Regions from separate parts of the Homo sapiens genome. Here region 2 is linked to region 1. The links come from fine-mapping of genetic effects on gene expression. A gene starts in region 1. The other region holds a variant in brackets. All regions are shown on one strand. Distances are between the middles of the regions. Region 1 holds the start of REELD1 (reeler domain containing 1). Region 2 overlaps LINC01095 (long intergenic non-protein coding RNA 1095).

Region 1 (11,924 bases):
AAAGCCAGACCCAAGATGACAAATATTGCATTATTCCACTTATGTGAGGTACCTAGAGCAGTCAAACTAACAGAGATGGAAAGAAGATTTAAAGTTATCTGGGTCTGGGCATAGGGAAGGATGGCCAGTACAGAGTGTCCATCTGGGATGATGGAAAAGTTCTGGAAATGGATAGTGATGATGGTTGTACAACAATGTGAATGCGCTTAATGCCACTGAGCTCTGTACAGCTATAATGGTAAAGTTTATGATATATGTTTATAAACACAATAAAAGAAATGCCCTCCAAAAATCATTACTCTTTGATCTAGAAATTTTGCATCTAGGAATTTTCCCCACTGACAAACTTGCACAAATAAATATGGCAAACACTGATGTCCAATACCCAACAGCGATTGTCCGCTTATTCCCTGCTAGCAGAACAGATGGTTCTGCTAACAGAACCCAGATGTTACATTCATGTGGAAGTGGAGACCACCTGTCTTCGGGGAAGTTAGGCCTCTCCTTTTCCCCAGGGGATGAACTGTGATTAGACTAAAACCAGTGTTGGTGATTCTGTTCCCCTTCACCAGATAGAATTCTGGCCAATGAGGCCAGATCTGCTGAGAGAACAGCTAATGTCTAAGGATCAATCTTTTCACGTAAGGCCTTTATTTCAGCTGTCATCCCAGTATGAGGCCTAAAACCATGGCACTCATCCTGAAACTGTGCGATGTCAAAGGAATGAAATCCCAACTCGCTGATGATGGCGGAGCAGGAAAATCGAAAAATCTTAGGATCTAGATGATGTCATTGAATGGCTTCACCCAAAGCAGAAACTGTGCCTCCACACTTAAGAGAGAAAATTAAGTGTCTTTATTCATTAAGTTTCTGTTAATCAGTTTTTCTGATACTTGGAACTAAAACAATCTTGATGCATACAGTGAGCAAAGACATATGAATAAAGATATCCATCAAAACCATTTATGAAAAAAATTTAAAAAGTAAATACCCATAAATAAGAAACTGGTTAAATCAATCATGCGACCTCTAGACAATGGACTGTCATGAAATCATTAAAAACAAGCTCTGTGGCTGGGCACGGTGGCTCACGCCTGTAACCCCAGCACTTTGGGAGGCTGAGGCGGGTGGATCACGAGGTTAGAAGATTGAGACCACCCTGGCTAACACAGTGAAACCCCATCTGTACTAAAAATACAAAACAAAAAAATTAGCCAGGTGTGGTGGTGGGTGCCTGTAGTCCCAGCTACTGGGGAGGCTGAGGCAGGAGAATGGCATGACCCAGAAGGTGGATCTTACAGTGAGCCAAGATTGCGCCACTGCGCTCCAACCTGGGTGACAGAGTGAGACTCTGTCTTAAAAAAACAAACAAAAAAACAAACAAAAAAACAAAATTCTGTATCCAATAAAATATATCAGTCTGATTGTTAGGTAAAAAATATAAACATTAAACAGACATTTAATTTGTGTCTGCTTAAGATTATATTAATTTGAGATCTCACTCACATATGCTTAAATGCATGGAAAACTTCTGAAAAGAGGTGCAAGAAACTTAACAAAGGTTACCTCTGGGGAATCAAATTGAGTGTTCAGAGCCAGAGAAGGAAAAGTACTTTTAATTTTCTACCTTTTGATAGTATTCTAACATTTTTAAAGCATGTAATATCTTCAAGCTATTTAAAATTTTTTTTAAAAAAGCCACTCATGTTCAAGGGAATGAGTGGCTAAAATCAGGGTCAGACCTTTATAAGTTTGCTAAATGCAGCTTGGTGTCTAGGATTGTTTTATTTTCCACACATTTGAACTTTTCTTAATAAACATTTGAACAAATATTTAGAACTATTGAACACCAAGCACTATGCTAGGAGTTGAGTATGTATCTATGAGCAGGATAACATGGTCCTTACCTTCAAGGAGCTCACAGATCCCGGCAAGAAAACAGTATACTTGCAACGTAAGTCAGTAATAACTGACTCTCATTGAATCCATGAGGCACTCTGTCAAGTCATTTATTACATATGCTGTCTTGGTTCCAGTTACAATCCAATTGTGTTTCCCTCAGGATACCTTCAGAATTTAGGTATCACAATATTTTTAGTTATTTCTGCAGATTTTTCTCACTGACATAGTGGTTTTTTGGTTTGGGGTTTGTTTGTTTGTTTGAGACAGAGTCTCACTTTGTCACTGTCACCCAGGCTGGAGTGCAGTGGGGCTATCTCAGTTCACTGCAACCTCTGCCTCCTAGGCTCAAGCAATCCTCCCACCTCAGCCTCCAGTGTAGCTGGGAACACAGGGTACAAGCCACCATGCCTGGCTAATTTCTGTATTTTTTTTGTAGGGACAGGGTTTTGCCATGTTGCCCAGTCTGGTCTCAAACTCCTGAGCTCAAGTGATCCACTCACCTTGGCCTCCCAAAGTGCTGGGATTACAGGCATGAGCCACCATGCCTGGCTGACATAGTGTTTTGATTCTTACCGTTGTTATTCCCCTAGCCACAGAACACTAGGATACTGACATACCAATCCCTTCATGCTGGGAGGGGCTGGATGCACTCTAGGGTGGATGGAGCCCCCAAAGAAGTGGCCTTCCTTGGGGAGCCTCTTGCATTTGCCCCGGTGTGCTAAATACACAGACTCACTTTCTGTGTCATGATGTGACAAAGTTTGGGAAGCTCTATTAGAATAGACTTAATTCAGTATATTGGGGAGTATATTGATGTTGAACTCATATACTATCCACCCATGTTTTTTCACACTTCTCAAGAGAGCGAAATGAATGGGTAAAACAATATTTATAGAGTAAATTTCATTTTTGTTTATCACCTTTAGTTCCTATCAAAAGAATCAGCAAAAATCAAGAGGGGTTTAGGGCAAAAGTTGCTGATGTGTTGGAGCTCACCTTGGGTGCATAGTTCTCTGCCTACACTTCGTGGCATCTGAAGTATCTGTAGCTTCCTTCTCTGCTGTCCCTCACTGCCACTTCCAAGCTTGGTCCAAGGTAAGCTGTGGACTCTGAAGAGTGTGTGTGAGTTTGGGGAGTGGGGGCGGGGCATGGAGGTAGAAACACCCCTGGTGGGGGCAACCCGAAACTGGTAAGTTCCCTGCCCCTGCATCTTCCTGAGAGATGATTCAGAGGTGTTTCACATGGCTTCTCAGAGGGTCCCCACTGGAATGCACCTCGGTTGCCCACAGCAGAGACCTGCTCAGTTGCACGCCCTTGACTGGCATCTCCTCTTGCCCAGCTCCCTTTCCCTCTTCCTCACCTGTGTTTCCTGGGATGATCTCTCACATAAACCACCTGCGCTCACGTTCTTTCCCTGCTTTTATAGGCACCTAAACTAAAAGAACAGGAAATGATTTTTTCATCCCCCAATATTTTAATTTAAAAAATGTCAAATTGTATATATTTAAAGTATACAACATGATGTTTTGATATACTTACACATAGTGAAATGGTTACTATAGTCAAGCAAATTAAAATATCCATCATCTCACCAAAGTGTCTGTTGATGGATGAATTTTAGTTTTAAATAATGAGAAAAAAGTGTATTTCACACACATAGATGATACATGAAGGTTGTTCAGAGTAACTATATTTGTGTCCGTAATAAGATACATTTATATCTTATGGTAAGGACAAAATAATTATCTATAATAATATTTGTGTCTTCTTATACAGATCACAATTAATACAGAGATTAGTTATCATGTGGTTTTTATGACACAAATATTTTATGCTTATTTTTAACCTGATAATTGCTTCTTAAGATTAAGCCAGGCTGGGCATGGTAGCTTGTGCCTGTAATCCCAGCACTTTTGGAGGCTGAATCAGGAGGTTCACTTGAGCCCAGGAGCTCGAGACCAGACTGGGCAACATACAAAGACCCTGTCTCTAAAAAAAATACAAAAAATTAGCAGGGCACAGTGGCATGTGCCTGTAGTCCCAGCTTCTTGGGAGCCTGAGGTGGGAGGATCACTTAAGCCCAGGAGTTTCAGACCAGCCAGGGCAACACAGTGAGACTCCATCTCTACAAAAAACAAAAAAAAGGGATTAAGCCAAATTTAGTCCAGGAAGCTTCTGACTGGGACAAACACAAACTGGAAGGTCCATGGGGGCTCTGGGGCTCCTCGGAGTCTCTCTAAGCCTCTCTGGTACATACCTGGAATCTTGTCACCTGGTGCATAGGAAGTCCTGTGGGTGTGGATGGTGATGTGGTGGCTGTCCTGGTGCTGAGGCTGGGCTTGGATGTGCTTGGGCTGCATGTCATCACAGGCCACCGTGCTGGCACCATGGGAAAAGGCAGATGAGCAGGAAGCCAGGCAGAGGGTGGTACAAGCCCAGCCCACGAGGGCAGCCTGCATCCTCATCCTGCCCTCTCCTGTATCATGACAAACAGCAGCTTCAGTCCAGACGTTATTTAGGAAAACGACATAAAGTCTTCTCGGGATGTGACTAACCTGAACCCCACACTGCCTCTGTACCTGAGATGCTTTTAGTGCAGCCTCCCAGGATTGCTAATGTTCAAGGCCAAGATCAAAAGGAAATGCCAGGCTATAGGAAGTGTTTCATTTCCAAACACCTTTTTAAAAACTTCTGTTCTTGTAATTTTCTCATAAGACCAGACTGCTTTTTTTGTTGTTGTTCAAAAGAGAGGCTTTAATTATTGAGTCAAAGAAATAAAACCAGAAAATGTTTGTATCCTAGCGTGAGCTCCTTGCAAGCTGACTGGTACCCAAAGGCGGTGTGGCCTCTGATACATTATCTGAAGTAGACACTCAATACACCACCATGGTCAGGCAGCATGGCATGGGATGGCTTGGCTGAGCATCTTATCTCTGTTGCAATTGAAAATTACCAAGTTAAGTGCTACAAAACATCTACCAACTATCAATTATTTAGAAGTGACTGTTAAGCTGGCAATGCTTTGATATCTCTTTGCCCTTTCTTTGGCTGTTTTTAGCTATTTCACTACTTTTAGTAAAGAAGATGAGCAGAGAAAGAAATACTCAATTTATTCTATAACTTCTTAAACATACTGATAACAATTTTGGCTCAGGAATAGAATACAATGATTGAATAAAATAGCATTTATAGAGTAAATTTTATTTTTGTTTACTACCTCTAATTCCCATCAAGAGGAAGAATTAAAATTTGGCAATGTAAAAGAAGATGACAAAAATAAAATGAGAGATAGCAAACAAGGCAGATGAAAATCTGCCTACATAAATATTTAGGATTATCACAGGCATTTTTTAACAGTTCTGTTTTAGGCCAGGTGCGGTGGCTCACGCCTGTAATCCTAGCACTTTGGGAGGCCGAGGCAGGTGGATTGCGTGAGCACAGGAGTTCAAGACCAGCCTGGGCAATACGGTGAAACCCTGTCTTTACTAAAATACAAAAAATTAGCTGGGTGTGGTGGCATGTGCCTATAGTCCCAGCTACTCGGGAGGCTGAGGCAGGAGAATTGCTTGAACCTGGGAGACCAAGGTTGCAGTGAGCTGAGATCATGCCATTGCACTCCAGCCTGGGCAAAAGAGCGAGACTCTATCTCAAAAAAAAAAAAAAAAGTTCTGTTTTTTTTTTTATAGTCCTGCACACAGGCATTTTAGAAGTTTGGCTAATTTTTTGACCTAAGGAACAATGCAAGGCAAAAAAAAAAAAAAAAAAATGCCCTCCCCTGTAGTCAGCTGGTTTTAAAAGGTGAAAATAAAATCCTGAAAATGTAGTAAAACTAGCTATCAGAACAATAGACTAAGGAAATAATCCATAAACCAAATAATCAAGTGTCCTCCACTCCCATTGTCTCTTCACACAACACCACCTTTTACATTCACAAGCTAAAAGAAGACAGGAATATGATCTATACCTCAAATTTCTTAGACATAAGAGTCCTTCAGACAATGCCTTTCTTTTCTAAGTTTGTTTTCTATGAAGCACCAAAGTCACACATCTCCATACTACAAGGAACCATGGCTACAGCTTCTCAGACACATTAGGAGATAATGAAGATGAACTGTGTAAAAGCACATTCTCAGTCAAGGGGGCTCAGGGTTCTTCTCATTTTCTTTCATAAGGGCCACATACAAAATGCCCCTTGAATGCTGGGCATGGTGGTGCGCACCTATAGTTCCAGTTGCTCAGGAGGCTGAGGCAGGAGGATCACTTGAATCCAGGAGGTCGAGGCTGCAGTGAGTTATGATCACATCACTACACTCCAGCCTGGGTACAGAGCAAGACCCTGTCTCTTAAAAGAAAAGAAAGAAATGAAATGAAAATGCTCCTCAAGTCCTTGCTGATGGCAAGTGGTCTTTCCAAAGGCAGATCAGACACAGTTGCCTACAAGGGAAGGGGAGTGAGTGCCTGGACTCACAGACTACGGCCACAGCCCCACCTCCCACCCTCCTGCCTTAGGTTTCACTGTGTCTTCTTTCCCACTAGCATCTTGTCTACCTGAACCCTGAAAACTATCCACTTGGAGCTGAGCATGGTGGCTCACACCCGTAATCCCAGCACTTTGGGAGGCCGAGGCAGGAAGATCACTTGAAGCCAGAAGTTCAAAACCAGCCTGCGCATCACAGGGAGACCTTGTCTCTACAAAAATAAATAAATAAAAACATCCACTTACCTAGGAACACAGTTTTCTTCAGGCTTGATAGAATGGCTTCCTCCCGCAGAGTTGCAAACACATCCCTTAAACATAAGTATTTTCTTCTCCTTTCAGTTTTTCCTCTAATGGGGAGAATAACAGCTGCTACCACTAATCCTCAGCATCTCCAGGAACTGTTCCTCAGTGTCCAAATCCAACCTAAATCGTATTAGCACACACATACACACACACACACACACACACACACACACACGGTTTACAGTCACATCATTGTTCAAGCCTGCGTGAAGAACTAGAAAGAACCGGAACTGGTTTTGCACAGGACTGGCACTGACATCCTTGGCAGAAGCTGGATGCCTCCATCTTGATCTCCCTGCAAAGGGGAGAATGTTTGAATGAAATGCATCTCAGCATTCTTGGCTTCTTGAGTCAGTGTGGACTGAAGTTACTCTTGGTGAAATAGAATTGATACGTTAGCCCAAGAGCAACGTTTGGTACAAAAAAATAACACGTGGCATAGGCACCTCCCGTATCAATTGCACTAAAGCTGGAGTTCACATTTTCATTCATCTAAGAATCTGCTGAGACACCTGATAATACCAGAGAGCCTATAGATCAGTGTTCCTCAATGTGTGGTCCCTAGAGTGCAACACCAGCATCACCTAGAAGCTTGCAACATTAACAATGAAGAAAAAGAGAGAGGAATGGATTTGGGAGATCAGGAGATCAGGTGGAGGTAGGATTTGGTGGCTGTTTGAATGCAAGGCGTCCAAGAGAGAATCCTAGGATTGATAGTCCTGGGTGATGTGGAGTAGGGGGCTGCAGAGAGAGCAATGTTCTGACTGTTAGGCCTTGTCTCCACTCAGAAAAAACTAAAGCTATGAGTGACTGAATAGGCAAGGCACTGGCTTAGGGACCAGGTTGCTAAGCCTTTTGTTGCAAGTGTAAATGAGACTATCTATCCTATAAACACCAAGGGAAATTGGGCTTCCTTGGCCTAGGATACCAGTATTCCCCACACACAGAACAAAAGCAAACAAATTCAATTTGGTTTCTCTAAGCTTCTATCCCACTAGGATTGGAGGCAATCTCAATCTCCCACTGAGTCATGAGAAATTCTGGGAGGTCTAGAAAATTAGGATACATTCCTTCCATGGCTGCTGTTATGATAGTTTTCAGAGCTCATGTGGTCACTTGAAGACTGTTAGTTGGAAGGCTTCTATGCCAAAAAGGGGCTCAGGTCTTCAGCAAGGCTGTGGCCTGGGTTCTTCCCACCCCCTCCACTGGGTCCTGACACAGATCTCTGCCCCTAGCAGGAGAGTGGCTAACCTCTTCTCCACTCCACTCTGCTCCTATCCCAGTCTTAGAGACAAAAGTGTCCCTCCTCTCCTTTTTTTTTTTACTCTCACCCCATTACCCTGGGCCACCTGGCATAATCCACCTACCACAGGTAGAGTGGTAATCTCCAACACCTCAGCTTTGCCCCTGAAACACAAACTCCCTGGATATACGGATTCTCAAAAGGCCCAACTACCAATTAGAATGAGGAGAGGAGTGCAAAGGTAGAGAGAGCGCACCTGCATGGCTCAATAAATAATCCTGCCATTTGCTCATGTAATATTTCTTGTTGAAAATCAGGAGGACACCATATCTTAGACATGGCCTTATCCTGCCTGCCACACCCACAGCCTCTGCTGAGCCGGCAGCGCATCTTATGCCACTCTCCCGACAAAGCTGATTGTACCAGGGGGGCATTCATCACAGGCGAGGGCCCTGCTGACTCAGGGCTGAGACAGAAACTCTCCCTGGGAATCTGACCAAGAACACATACAAGGCTACTCTATACGAGTGCTGGCCAATAGAAATAGAATGCAAGCCACATATGTAATTTAAAATTTTCTAGGCCGGACGCAGGGGCTCACGCCTGTAATCCCAGCACTTTGGGAGGCCAAGACAGGCAGATCACCTGAGGTCAGGAGTCCAAGACCAGCCTGGCCAACATGTTGAAACCCCATCTCTACCAAAAAATACAAAAATTAGCCAGGGATGGTGGCACGTGCCTGTAATTCCAGCTACTCTGGAGGCTAAGGCAGGAAAATTGCTTGAACCTGGGAGGTGGAGGTTGCAGTGAGCTGAGATCTTGCCATTGCACTCCAGCCTGGGCGACAGAGTGAGACCCTGTCTCAAAAACAAACAAACAAAAAAATTGGACTCTCCTTATTTTTAAAAAACGTGAAAAGGAACAAAAGACATTTGTTTTAATAATAAATTTAGTCAATTCAATATATTGAAAACATTTCACATGCAATCAGCATATAAAATATCATTAGTGAGATATTTTGCATTCTTTTTTTCACAGTAAGTCTTTGATATCCAGTGGTATTTTACACTTACAGCACGTCTCAATTCAGACTAGACACATCTCAAGTGCTCCGGAGCCACATGTGGTAAGCTGCTACCATATTTATCAGCGCAGGTCTGTACAAAGGAAGGTGGTTGAGCCATAGGTCATGGTGTGGGGTCAGACCTGAGGCCGTATTGTACCACGTGCAGGATGTGTAAGAGGCATTGAGGGGACAGGATAGTAATTAAACATAACAGCATATTTATATAATGCCTGCACAGTACCACACACTATTCTAGTCAGCTAGTTGGCAAATTACCTCATCGATACAGCAACACAATGAGGTCTGCACTATTGTTATCTCATTTTATGGATAAGGAAACTGAGTCACAGTGTTTCTGTAACTTGCCAAAAGTTCCCACAGCATTCAGGAAGTGATAGATAAGGTTTTTCCCTACAGTTTTGCTATAGAATAGCTTTGTAACATAATCTACAAGATGAAGATAACTACCAGTTCCTGTACCTGCATCCCGAAGTGCTGGTGAAGTTTCAGTGAGGTAATAAATAATAAGGAGTTGGTACTTAGTATGGGGTTTGAGACAAAGGAAGGGCTCTGTACCTGTTTTGTCTGGGGAAAGAGAAAGCTGGCTGAGCCACAGAGAGGGTTGGTGCCCACCACGGAGAGGAGGCGGTGAGAGAGTGTGGCTCTGAGCCAGATCATGCGCTAAGCCCGAAGCCCGAGAGACAGCAGTGAGTTGGCCTCCAATCCCCACCCACATGAAGGAGACCCAGCTGTGTGCACCCGGAAAGCAAGAAAATACTGTGTTTTGTTTGTTTGTTGCTTTTATTTTGGGAATCTGCTTGAGGTCATTTCACACTAGCAATTTGGCTGGACTTGATATATTAACATGATTGAATCTGTTACCTTAACATCCCCTGGCCCTGAGTAGAACAGTTAATATTAACGTCATACCAAGGGAAAGTCTTGGGGTGGGTTTTATGGTTATAAATCAGATACTCTGTGTCCTTCGGTAAATCACTTAACTTCTCTGGGTTGCCTCAGGTATAAAATAAAAAGGTTTGAATTAAATAATCTCTTCTATTTCTTCCAGCAAGAAAATGATACACATTTTCAAGGTTTTATTTTAGTTATAAAGGCATAAGAATGAGCTACTCTTAAAACAGCTTGAGATGGCATGCATTAAAGTCTGGCACGTAATTATAACCTGCGTTGACACCATCCCACACTCACTCCTGGTTTAAGAGTCTGCCTTGGAAAAGTTTGCAAATGAAGGAGGAACCTGTTGAGCTCACTATTCTAGTCCTGTTTCCTGCTCCTTCACTCCAGCAGACAAGTGGACATTTTCTTCATTTTCAAAGATCTTGGAGATGAAGATAATGGCTTTTGTAACTCATGAACAGTCTTTCCTATCCAAATGTTTTTCCTACCTTGGTAATGACTTCCTGCTGAGATTGACTGGTGTTTTTACATAGAAATCTGCTATTCCAGTATCATCATTGTGATTAGCATTTTAATGTTTAGATAGATTTTTTAAAACTATCTGAAGATTTCTGGAGTGCTGGGATAATCTATGTAAGAGAAAAATACAATTCTCTTTAAACTCTACATGAAAGTGGGAAGTCAATGGTCATTCATGTACGTTTAGCAGGTCTGCTGACTTTTGCATCATCCTCCATGCTACTGTGCACTTTCTGCCATTTAAAAAAAAAAAGTTGAGTGCCTTTTTTTTTTCTTTTGAGACAAGGTCTCACTCTGTCATCCAGGCTGGAGTGCAATGGTGCAATCACAGCTCACTGCAGCCTCAACTCCCAGGCTCAGGTGATCCTCCAGCCTCAGCCTCCTGAGTAGCTGGGAATATAGGCATGTGCCACCACTCCTGGCTAATTTCTGTATTTTTTGTAGAGATAGAGTTTCACCATATTGCTTAGGCTAGTCTCAAACTCCTGTTTGGGCTCAAGCAATCCTCCTGCTTCTGCCTCCCGAAATCTTGGGATTACAGGTGTGAGCCACTGTGCCCAGCCTAGTGCTTTTATTCTACCCAATAATCCTCTCCTTCATTATCCCTGTTAAAGAACAGTACAGTCAAACAGGATTTCTAAGTTAATTAATATTTGAATTCTTACTATTTGTAAAGCAACTTGCAAGAGAGTCTGCTGATAAAGTATCGGCAGGATCTTCTCCCTAGGAACTGACATTTTACTTGGGGTGAGGTAGCAAGGTAAAGAAGAAAGAGCTCTGAAGTCAGACAGCAAACTAGTTACATGACCTTGGAAAGTTAATGCTGGTGAGCCTCAGTTTTACCATCTGCAAAATGGGGAGACTATTAGATTTCTCACAAAGGTGTTGTAAGGATTAGATGCTCTCTAGCAGTGATGCAGAGCAGTAAACAAGCTATGATCAGAAGAGAGATAAAAGCCAGGTTACCAGAGTCTGGGATGCCAGAATATTTCAAGTAGAATCAGGAAAATATGGTTGATTTTAGAGGTTAGGTGGAGTTTAGACAGATGAGATGGGTAAAAGGATATTCAAAGCAGGAGAGAGAGTTTGAACAAAGGTGTGAACACTAGCTGTGTTTGTAGTAATTATCCAGACATAAAATGAGGTGCATTTGACGCAGGATAGTGGGGACTGAGATGTTGAGAGAGTAAATGGAAGTAAGACTTGGAGACCTTTTGTATGGAGGCAAAGTGGGGATCAAAAATTGGCATTTAGGGAGTCTGGACAAGTACTATAATTTATGTCCAAAAGAGGGGAGTTGGTGGCATTCAATTTTAGTTACACTGGAAATGTACTCTGAGCATTTATTCATTCCTTCAGCCAACCTTTATTAAATGCCTACTAAGTGCAGGTCATGGGCTCTGGGCAGGGGATATAAAGATGAATAACACATAGTCTTCACTCCTCCAGGGCTGGTAAAGCAGAGCAATGCATCAGCAGATAATTGCAAAACA
Region 2 (11,924 bases), 100 kb after region 1:
AATGAAGGAAATTAGGAATGTGGAAGTAAAGAATTGACATGTCCTTGTAGAGTAAGTCCTCAGAGAGGTTCTTACAGGGTTTTCAAATAAGACAAGAACAGCCTCTTCACAGTTGATGCTCATCAGGACATAGACAGACTTTTTCCACTTTATGCTGTTAAAATTCACTAGAATTTGCAAAGACTAGCTTCTTTGTAGGGATTCATGAACTGTGACCTATGGATATATGTTCCTCCGTGACCCTCAGAGGGGCAGCAGCAATTGGAGGATCAAAACCTTATGAGGCCTCTGAATCCTTCCATATATCCCCATTTCAGTGATCAGGGTTCCACATTTTTATGTTCAGTGTTCTACTGACAAGCCTGAGAATTCAACAGATCAAAGCAAAATTCAGAATTAACCATTGCATTTGGTTTGCAGCTATTTTGGCCCTGCTGCAAGAGATTATTTTAGCATAGTTATATATGACTCCCTTTTTTTCTAACTGTGCTTTGGGCTGAGAATTTAGTGATTTGAGTTTGTTATTTTCTTTATTTAAGCTACTCCTGACTGTTAGTATTAATTACTTCACCCCATAGCCTCCTTGTGTGACTCTTTCCACCTATGCTATTCAGTGGCAGTGGCTACTCAGACCCCTAAAATGTCATTGTCTTACCCCTGCATGTCATAGACTAACAAATTCTCATTCTTAAATACTACTACTGAAATTTTACTGCCCTCATCCCCAACTTTCCCAACAATTACTCCCAGAATCCCTCCTTCTCCCCCTTCCCTGAGATGCTGGAATCACTCCTGGTTCTTATATCTGAACTAGCCAGGAATATTAGACATAAATTGGCTGTTTTCATTAGGTCACACTAAACCTAGAATAGGCTGGTGGCTTTCAAAAGAGACCCCCAAAGACAGTGGCTCAACCAATATAGGCTTATTTCTCTCTCACATAACAACCCACAAGAACACAGACCCACAAACATAGGAAGGTGGTTCTGCTACATAAAATCATCCAGAGAGCCTTGTTCCATCTTTCTAGGTGCCCTGTCATCTCCTCAAATGTTGCTCTTATTCACTGAAGCAAGCTGACTCCCCAATACCATGTACATACTGAACCCAGAAGAGGGGAGAAAAGAAGGAAGGATTGTGCATAGGAGTTCCTTTTGAAGAAGTGACATGGAGGTTAGACACATCACTTCTGCTCACATTTCCCTGATGAGAATTTAGTCACATGGCCATGCCTGGCCACAAGGAAGGTTGGAAAATTTAGTCTCTAAAATTAGAGCAATTATTTCCCCTTTTCCTTTTAGGAACAGAGCCTCCTGTTTTCACCAAACCTAACAATGATCAGCCACACTGACTCTGATTGAGTTAAGTAGAAAAGAAGTTTATTAAAAGATGACCAAGGAGCTCACAGAAACACCAGGAAATTTTGAGAAGGTTCAGAAAACAGGTAGAAGAAGAGAGACTCTAGGTATCTAGAACCCAAGTACAAATCATGCCACAAGAACATGAGCAATGGGCACTGCTGCTAATAGCACTAGACACTGGACATCAGAGCTTGCACTTGCCACCAGCAGAGGAAACCAGTGAATGTTACTTTATAGGGCAAAGGGGACTTTGCACATGTAATCTTGGAAGAGTATCCCGGATTACTTAGGGCTCAGTGTAACCACAAGGGTCCTTATAAGAGGGATGCAGGCGATCAGAGGGAGAAGTAGGAGAGGTGATGACCGAAGCAGAGATTGAAGTGATGCAGCCACAGGCCAAGGAATTCTGGCAGTCACTAGAAGCTGAAAAGGGCAGGCCCCAGCTCTCCTGAAGCTCTCAGAGGAAGCAATCCTGTCAGTTCCTTGATTTTAGCACTAATGTCAGACTTCTGACCTCCAGAATTGTAAGATAATAAATTTGTGTTCCTCACCACAATCAAGCTAATTAACATTTCCATCACCTCACATAGTTACCATTCTTTTTTATTTTTTATTTTTATTTCTTGGTATGGTAAAGACACTTGGGATCTACCCTCTTAGCAAATTACAGATATACAATACAACATGATCATTGTGTTGGTTTCAGCTTCAAAGGGTCAGGTAACCTGTTACAGCAGCAATAGAAAAATGAACACAGCAGCTTTTGCCTGGAGACTCTCCATTGGCCAAGCCAAGATTGTCTCAGAATTCTGCTGCACTCTGAGGCTCTTCCCACCATTCTTTGTTTCTCATTATCCTTTTACAGTTGTTAGACCTGTCTCCCAATCTAATGGCTCTCTCCAACTCCCACTCCCTTTCTCTTTATCCTCCAGAGCCATTTTCCCTAATGAATTTCTTTCCCTAATAAATCTCGAATCCCATCTTGGCATCTGCTTCTTGGATGTTCTCAACTAAATAATGCTACCAATCCTACTCTCTCTTGTGCCCCAGGAAACTGGAGGCTTTAGCTGCCTTCTACCCCACCACCCCACTCCTCAGAATAGACTCTCTACCACTCCTCTTCATCGGTTCACTAGCTTCCAATGCAAAGTCCTGGGGTGGTGCCTGACTGGCCAAGCCTAGGTCACATGCCCCCTCTCCAGGGCAGGAGGCTGGAAAAACAAGTCTCTGGCCTATTTGACCTCCATAGTGGAGGTCTCTAACCCTCATGGAGACTCATACAGTGAGGACATCCCTAAACATAAAAAGTGGGTTCATGTGCTACCAGGTACCCCCAATGTCTATGACAATATCCCTCCCTCAAATATTGTGAATCCCATCCTGTGTGAACAAGAAACATGTAGTCTTCTTTTGCAAGAACTTCTGAAGATTTGTCAGGGAATGCTTACACCAGCTCCGTGCTTCCTCTTGTCATCTCCCAACCTTATCTCTCTGTTAATCGGTTGCCCCCTGTGGACACCAGCTCCTCTCTTTATTCCAACATGGCTGACACCAGCCATAGAGAGTGACAAAACTTTACTGAGGGTTTGAGAATAACATGAGGAGTCATACCACATGCCTTAGTCCATTTTGCGTTGTTATCAAGAAATGCCTGAGGCTGGGTAACTTACAGAGAAAAAAGATTTATTTGGCTTACTATTCTGATGGGCTGGAAGGTTCAGGATTAGGCATCTGCCATTAGGACCTTGGGCTGCTTCCACTCACGACACGAGAGGAAGGAAGCTAGTGTATGCAGAGATCATATGGAAAGGAAGCAAAAGAGAGGTGAGGGTGCCGGGCTCTTTGTAACAACCAGCTGGATCGGGAACTAATGAGATGAGAACTCACTCACCCCTGAGGGAGAGTATTAATCAGTTCATATGGGATCTTCCTCCATGACCCAAACCCCTCTCATAAAGTCCCACCTCCAACACTGGGATCAAATTTCAACATGAAGTTTTTTGGGGTACAAACATCCAAACCACAGCACCACCAAAAGGGAGATAGAAAATTCTGTATCACTGCTCCTAAAGCAGATTGGTCATAACCCCATCGAAGGAATCCCTTGGAATTAAACTCTGCTCTTAAGCTCCTGCCTGCCACTGTGGTGCTAAAGTCCATTTCTCCTCCTCTCCATGAGCCCCCTGTTTTATCACCACTCTGCCCATCTCCACTCTTCCCTGGCCTGCTTCTTTCCTGAGGAAGCCATAAAATATATTAGAGAAAAAAAAAATCTCTGATGAGCAGCTTAGCTTTGCTCCATCTTAATCTGTTTCTTCCAGAATAGAAGCATGGCCCTATCTTTGTTTAACTAAAGAGCTTATATCGGTGTTTTTCAAATCAAAAGGATAGTCTCCCTGAAAATGAATTCTGCCTCAATCTCTAGAGTCAGAGGTGCAAATTCTAGGTAGATTTAAAAATAGCAGTGTCCCTAGGATGGTTAATTTCAGGTGCCAACTTGACTGGATTAAGGAATACTTAGAGAACTAGTAAAGCATTCTTTCTGGGTGTGTCTGTGAGATGGTTTCCAGAGGAGACTGGAGTGTGTGTCAGTAAACTGAGTGGGGAAGACCTGTCCTCAATGTGGGGGCATCATCCAAATGGCTGGGGGCACAGATAAGAACAAAAAAGGCAACAACAGCACATACACAAAAAGAGATTTTTTTTTTTCTCTCTCTCTCTCCTGGAGCAGGGACACTCTTCTCCTCCTGCGGTTGGACTCCAGGCTCTATGACCTTCAAACTCCAGGACTTACACCAGTTGCCCCTGGGCACTCAGGACTTCTGCTTCAGACTGACAGTTGCAGGACAGTGCAGCATTTTATTTTAAAGATACCCCACAACGTAGGTGGCCAGTCCTGCTGCAGGTGCGGTTTCAAGCCTTTGGAGTTTGACCTTCTAGTCCAAGGTCATTACAGCTGCAGGCAGAGGCTCCCGCGGGGAAAAGAGCATTTCCTGGGACGCTGGAACTAAATGAATGGCCCACTCTCCAGTTCAGCCCTTGCCTCCTTCCCGACACATAAAGTTCAAGAGCCACGGTCCTGAGTGCATAGGAACAGCCCCATCACCCTTCTCCCTCTGGGCAAGCTAGGAGCAGCGGTGCGAGGCTCCATTTCTTCTTCTCTGCCTCCTGGACCTCAGCCACCTCTGCTCAGGCACAGGCCAGCTGCCCAGGCGTCCTCATCTGGCGACCAGCTCTGACCGCAGCCCTGGTCTGCTCTCGGGGTCGGGCCCACACCCCTCTTCTTCCTCCTCTTCCTCCCAAGGCCTGGGCTCGGGTCCCTCTTCTCACCTTTCCCTTTCTTGCGTTGCAACCGTAACTTGGGAAAACCCTTCTTGATCTTCCTCTCTCACCTCCTTTCAAACACATGCTTGCAGGCTTTTTCCCGATCTCATCCTTAGGGCAGATACGCTCCCTTGATTCTGAGGTCTTTGAACTTGCTGTGAAGCCACACTACCTGCGTCCCAGGGTCTCCAGCTTGCAGATGGACTGTGGTGGGACTTCTCAGTCACCAAGGTCGTGTGAGCCAATTCCCCTAATACATCCCCTCTCATCTATCTATATCAGTAGAGATACCAATATCAGTACAGATATAGCTCCTATTGGTTCTGTCTCCCCAGACAGCCCTCACAAACACGGTTCCTGAACCCACCTCACACTGCTCCACCCCACACCCAGACAAACGCACACATAGAGGTAGGCAGGTAAATACATAGATCAATAGATTTATGTAAACTGTGAGCATCACGCCTGAAGAGAACTCCCTATTTCCACACCGTGTTGCCACAGCACTCCTACTTCCCACATCTGCCTCCAAATTGGCATTCTTCCTTCCATCTCTGCTCATAGGTCAGGCGACCCACCATGAGGTCACACCCCTTGCCGAGGACCACAGTTTCACAGACACTGTGCCTTCCAGCCACCCCGCTGTCCTGCGGCAGCCATGGGAATGTGGTGTTTCAGCAGTCCTCGCGGTGTTCCTCATGCTGACCCTGCTGAGTTCCAGCCATCTCACCGGATCCAGTGGCTTGGGAGTTTGGGTTCATAAGGATTTGAGCTCTGCTAACATCCCTGACAGGAAAGAAGCAGAGTAGCTTTTAGGGACAAACCATTCCAAGGAGAAGGATCACTGCACAAGGACCCTCTCACTCTCTCCCCAGAATCTCCCCTCTCTCTACAGTGCTCTAAATTCTGTCCTCATCACCCCTGCAGTGTCTCTTCCCCATTTCTCCTCTACCATAGACATAGACAAAGCATCACCCAAAAAGGGAGAGGGAAATATGACTGGGAATTCTTTAGAGGTGAGTGGAGTTAAGAACCTGAGCTGGATTCTTCTCTTTTACAAAGCAAAACTAACTAAATACATAAAAATTTAAATTTATTTTCCTTTCTTCCTTGGTCCAGTGAAGACTGGACTCTTCAAAGTGGACTTTGGTAAAAACAAAAGAGAAAGTTAAAAAAATTAAATTCTAAAGGCTAAATTTACACTATAGAGATTTTTAATAACTGAATTCTGGTAACAAGTTGGTTGACTCAAGCTAAGATTCTTTTCCTTCCACTTCTGCTTTCTTATTGTTGTTTTTGGTTTTATTTTTGCATTTGTGCTGTCACACACAGGATTTCTCCTCCTTTCATTTATTTCCACCAGCAGACCTGCACCAATACAAAAATGTGCCCTGTTAATAATAATAGCTGCTGTTTATTGATTATTTACCACATCCAGGTACTTCATGTAAGAATGCTATACTGTAGCTAATTAAGATAATCACAGAAAATTATCAATAGGTAACTTCGGTTACTATTTTCTACATGCTAGCTTTTATTCTCACTTCATCCTTACCATCATGCTAGGAGGATAGGTATTATTATCACCATTTTAGAGATGAGAAAAGTGAAGTAAATACTATTAATTTCATTTAGAAGATAAGTAGATGAGGCTTAATCACACAGTTATTAAGTGGCAAAGACCGGATTTGAATCAAGATATCTGATTTTTAAAATTCACCTTGTTTCAAAGCATTTTACTTCACCTAAGAAGTTAATACACCTCACAACCAGATAACTCCTTCTTTTCAATTAGACTGTGTCTGTATCTGGGATCAGTTGCGAAGCAGAAGTATGACGTGACTAAGGCCACCGCTGGGTTAGGATACCCCCATCCAAGGTCAGGTTCTTAACTTCACTTAGCTCTGAAGACTTACGATTAGTTTTTCCTCTCCCATTTTTTGGGTAGCCCTTTCTCTTCTTTTCTGTGGAAAAATTTGTAACTTACCAGAACAGTTCACAATATGACAACATTGTAGTGGTGACATCACAGAGACAGAAGGAGGAAGAATGGCAACCCTTGGACTCCTGGGGATG[T/C]GGGAGCTCCTTGACCACATGTGGTACCTCTCTTTCCTGATCCCAGATTGAGAGCTGTACTAGCCTGGCATGCAGACAGCAGCTTTAGAATCAGATCTGCCTTCTGGCGGCTTCCCACCTAGGAGCCATGGGACCTTTGTGAAGTCACCAATTGTGCTGTGGATGCTTCATTTGTGAAGGAGAACAGGACTGCCTTGTAAGTTGCAATATGCGTTAGAAATAGCAAATAAACAGTACTTAACTCATAGGAGGCCTGTGATAAATGGGAGCTTTTATCATAGACTGACTTTCCTGCTCCTGTTTTGCTTCTTCTTTATGTTTAGGTGAAATTACGGATGGTGCTACTAAAACATATCAATAATTTGAATTTCACTTTTGTGGATGCTTTAAACATCATAGTCATTAGAAGGTGGATCTGGCTGATTGTACTTTAAGTTTTCAGTTTGAGCTGGAGCTTTGTATTATAACAGGAGGGTACTGGACAAGGTGAGTTGCTGATAGCCTCCCCCCACCTGCCAACAGACCTATCATTAGATGGAATGTAATGGACTTTGGCCAGTTGTTCTCCACCCCAGCTCTGACTTAGCGGCTCTGGCAAGAATGGATATATGAGCCTAAATACAGAGCTTGTTGTGCTACTTTTGGCTTTCCTTGTCATTATTTCTTCCTCTAAATTCAACAAATCATTACTTCCTCTTTTATTATGTTTTAGTATGAGTGTTTTAATACCACAGATATTCAAAATAAGCCTGTGGGAGACACTGGGTTATGAGGTGATCATACATTGTTCCTTTAATTTTCAGAACAACACAATAAGATAGGGACCCTGTCCCAGAGATGACTACATTGAAGTTCAGAGAGTTTAAGTAACTTGCCCAAAGTCACATCGCTAGTGAATAGCAAAACGAGGATTCAAGCCTAGGCCTGCCTATTTTCAAAGTTTATGGAAGGAATTAAAACATTTCTTAGTCTAATTTTCTCGGAGTTTTGTTCTGCTTTGTTTTGTTTTGTTTGGCTTACTTTCTTCATCAGCCTAATACCTGCTTCAAGTCTAAGTGAAGCTTTCACCTCTGCCTGGAAGTCTTCCCTGTCCCTGTAGGCTGTCAGGTGGCCTTCTCCCAGCCCCCATAGCATCCAGCATAGAAGCTGATCACAGCACTTACCACCCAGTGAAAAGTGTGGGCACAGTCCTGTCGGCCCCTTCCTCCTAGACTGTGCACCCTTGGGCAGCATGCTTTGCTTCCACAACACTTGCTACTTAGCAGGGGCTCAGGGCAAATGTGTGGACTTGAGCTGCCAAATTGAAGCCATAGGTCAATATTAGAACTAAACACTAGTGCTAAAGTGAAAACTTTAAGATGCACATAGACCAGTAATCCCCAAATGTGTTTGCTGAGGAGTGTGTGTGTGTGTGTGTGTGTGTGTGTGTGTGTGTGTGAAGAGACTGTGTACCACTGGCTTTTTCTCTCCTGTCATACTTTCACTCCTGATGGACTAGGCCTATGGAGTGTTCATTTTTCTCCCTGAACATTAGACATCTCTCTGCTGCCTTTAAATAAAATTCCTCATTTTACCTCTCCTCTTCTTTTCTTTATTTCCTTTGCTTCAGACAAGATATGAGCCCTTAACTCACCATAATTAACCTCACAATGGGCTACTGTTTGTTTCATATTGGAGACCACAAGATGGATCAGATAATAGTCCAATATTTTTGGACTACAATTTCCAATATTATTCCAATATTGCTGGAATATTATTCCAGTATCATCTACTATTTTCCCGATATTATTATTGGAAAATAATAGCATAGCTATTATATAGAATATTTACCCTGTGCCAGGGACTGTTTCAAGCACTTTACTTACATTAACTCATTTAATCTTCACAACAACTTTATGAGATTCATACTATTAGTATCAACATTTTACAGATGAGGAAACTGAGGTACAGATGGGAAACTTGCTCAAGTTCACACAGCAATTAAGTGATCAAGTCCAAGAGCAAAACCAGGCAGGCTGGCTCCAGAGCTCACGATAGTCCACCACTGCTTTCCACCATCACTACGGAATCAAGTCCATGAGGATACTCACCTTATGTCAGTTGCCTAAGTTGGAAATTATAGAATCTTCAAATTGGAAGGGACGTTATCATCCAAGATTTCAACTTTCTACTCACTGCAAAATCCCTTCTGGAACTTCCCAGATTGATGAATTTTCATCAGCTCTGCTTGAGTACTCCCAGTGACTTGGAAAAAAAACACTGTAATATGGATATGAAATATAAACTGTTCATGGATAAATTATTGCATAATAAAAACATGCCTAATGGCTACACTCCCCTAATATGTTCATTTGGTAATTATTTTTTATTTGCAAACTTGTTTTGATAGAACTGTTTCTTTTAAAAAGTTTAATTTGTCTTGAGATACATTTTCCTTTTATATCTTCTTATTAATGGGCTTATTTTCAAAGAGGAAGGTACAGCAAAGGTAAAAGAAAAAACTCATTTTCTCATGTTGTTTTGGGGTAAAAAATAAAGGCTAACAGTGGGTGAGTGATCTTTTTAATATTTTTAGTTAATTTCCCACACATACTTTAAAAAGTTACTATGGTACTGTTTTCTCCTACTATTAAAAATCTGTTTGAAATGAACTACTGGAAAAGTTAGGACATCATAAATCATCTTAAATAGAATAATTTATTTGATGTTTAATCCCTAATTAAGATGAAAATATCAATTGCAGCTGTTCGTTAGGTATGTTCTTAGTTTGTGTTTGGGCCACAGCAGGGGAAGAAAACCCAGAATTTCATAATTTTAAAGAGATTTCTAAATGCTCTGTGTTACACAAAACTTGCAAGTATGGCATTGTGGGAGACAACAGCAGTGTCATAGCTGACATTTGGGTTCTGGATTCAGACTGCCTGGGTTTAAAGCCCTTCAGTCCCCATCTTGATACAATGTTAAAAACATTCAAAGTTTTTAGCACAATGCCTAGCACTTTAGATGCCCAGTGAAATGCTGATATTATTTTTCCTTGTCCATTGAGATCTGTTTTGAAGTATAGGCAAAGCTTGGGACTGAGAATAAAGAATCAGCATCAAAGTCTTATAGTTCATCGTTTTAAAACTGTTTTCTCCAATTTATCCAAAAATAAAATTGAGGGAGTAAGATAGCCCGTGGTTAACATATCAAAGCACCAATAGACAGATTAGAGACTAAGAAGGTACATGAGCACTACAGGCTAAGATGTGGCCAGAACGCATGTCAGGTAAGAAGGGATACCCAGAAATCCTATCTTGGAGGCATCAGGTGAGCATGAGCAAAAGGATATCCCAGGCCAAAGGAACCTTGAATTAAGCAAGCTCTTTACAAGTCCTTCCTTGTGAGGAAGGAACGGCCCTGGGCCAGGCTTCCAAGGACTTCCATTTTAGTCCTGGGTCTGCCTTCTGTCACATTTCAGGCAGGCCATTTAAATTCTCTGAGCCTCAGTAACATTTTTTTTCCTGCCTACCTTAGGGTTATTGAGATACTGTGTGGGAAAGGCCATTGAAACAAAGTTTCAGAGCACTATCTATAAAACACCACATTTTATCACTAATAATCCCATCTTCTAATGTAATTACAGACTTCCCAGGATTTAGCAACCAGGGCCTGGAAGGCAGACAAAGGTAACTGGCCCCATGTGATAAAAACAGGTACAAACTTTCTTTTCTTACCTCACAAGCCTAGCTTAGTGCTGGACACTCAGCAAATGCTAACAAAGTGCCACGCATTGGTTTGAAAGGGTTCACTTCAACCTTGCCTTCTTCAGGAAGCACTTACAGAGAGCACTTTTCAGTGGGTAACAATGTGACGTCAAATGCTCAGTTTAAAACCTCCTTCCAAATAAAAGGAAATTCATCCTAGAAATGGCTAGAATGACAGAATGAAAACAGAGCAGTATCTACCTGGGCTTTAGTGCCAGGAAGTGACAGTCATTGGCTATGTGTTCAATTACATGGCCGAAGTTAATAGGTAATCAAATATTATGCAATAATAGATTAGTTGCCTTTCCTTGTTGCTAATTATCTAAAATATCTCTATATTGCATATTTAAACATAAAAATTTCCCTAAGGTGAATGATACACTATGCCATTTTTAGTGATTAAATGTGGCATTTTCTGCATCTTAATGAAACCATTATTTTTGTTCAGCTGAGTGATTTTATTAATTAAAAGAATGTCAGGAGAGTGGCAGCATGGTCATAGAGTTCTCAGAGAGTCGTAGCATTATAGAGCCATAAAGGACCTGACCAAACCCAGCCAGGGACTCTCAGTTTACCTGTAATTCTCCACCTGGAAGTCAAAAAGCTGGGTTCTGATATCATCAGTACTATGTGACCCCGGGCAAGTCATTCCAACTTTCTTTGACTGAGTTTATTCTTCAGACAAGGGATCTGTAATGCCATGATACTTTAAATTAAGCTTTTCATGTTGACATATGTTTATATATTGTTACACTAATAATGATGTGTCCCAACAAAGTATGGTTTTCTTTCTCTTTCTGACAACAAACACAGGGACTAGCTGTATTTGAATTCTCTGTTATTGGGAAAAAACATGGCTTTTCTTAATAGGCTGTAAATAACCTGAGGGTGCAGTTTGGGGTTCATAATTTTGTGTCCCCCATGGTGCCTTTAACATACTACTAGAAAGAAATAGAATTTCATTGTTGCGTGTTTCAATGTATTTCGGACCAAAGCATCCTGCTCTGAAACATCATTAAGGGAAAAAAATCCTAGCATATTGTGGGCCTCCAATGAAATGAATGTTAATTGTGTTGCCCAATACCAATTTATTAACGTTTATGAGCATACAACTGTGCGTGCACAAACACAGTTCATATATAGTTCTTGAAAAAAGCATTTGGGGTTTTCTACCACATGATGCTTTCAGTCAGTACCTCCTACCATTAATTTGTGTTCAGAGCAGTAGTTCCCAAAGCTACCCCTTCAGCAACATGTATGTTGACATGGATGTTGAAATGGATGATGTAAATACAGCCATTCAGAATAATCTGGAATCCTATTTTATGATTTGGAATGCCCAGAATGTCCAAGACATGACATACTTACAATTTCTCAGAAAAGTCACACCTGAAAAAGGTAAACACTCAACATAGAC

The links.
Region 2: its variant is fine-mapped to the expression of REELD1 in whole blood (INTERVAL, PIP 0.91).

The regions. Positions count from the first base shown.
Region 1 is chr4:146,209,396-146,221,319 of GRCh38, reverse strand. REELD1 (reeler domain containing 1) reads right to left here and starts at 6,782. Exons shown (of 8, transcript NM_001354631.1): 1 at 6,626-6,782; 2 at 6,122-6,244; 3 at 4,160-4,378. The coding sequence starts at 4,367.
Region 2 is chr4:146,106,634-146,118,557 of GRCh38, reverse strand. LINC01095 (long intergenic non-protein coding RNA 1095) reads left to right here. Exons shown (of 6, transcript NR_038331.1): 2 at 4,093-4,266; 3 at 4,802-4,916; 4 at 6,808-6,957; 5 at 7,085-7,247; 6 at 8,692-9,103. It overlaps LOC105377469 (a long non-coding RNA gene), which reads right to left. Exons shown (of 3, transcript XR_939294.1): 2 at 10,478-10,673; 3 at 8,933-9,020. Among named protein-coding and RNA genes, the nearest start is that of LINC01095, 9.3 kb to the left of the region's middle. The variant T/C (reference allele first, on the strand shown) is at 6,762.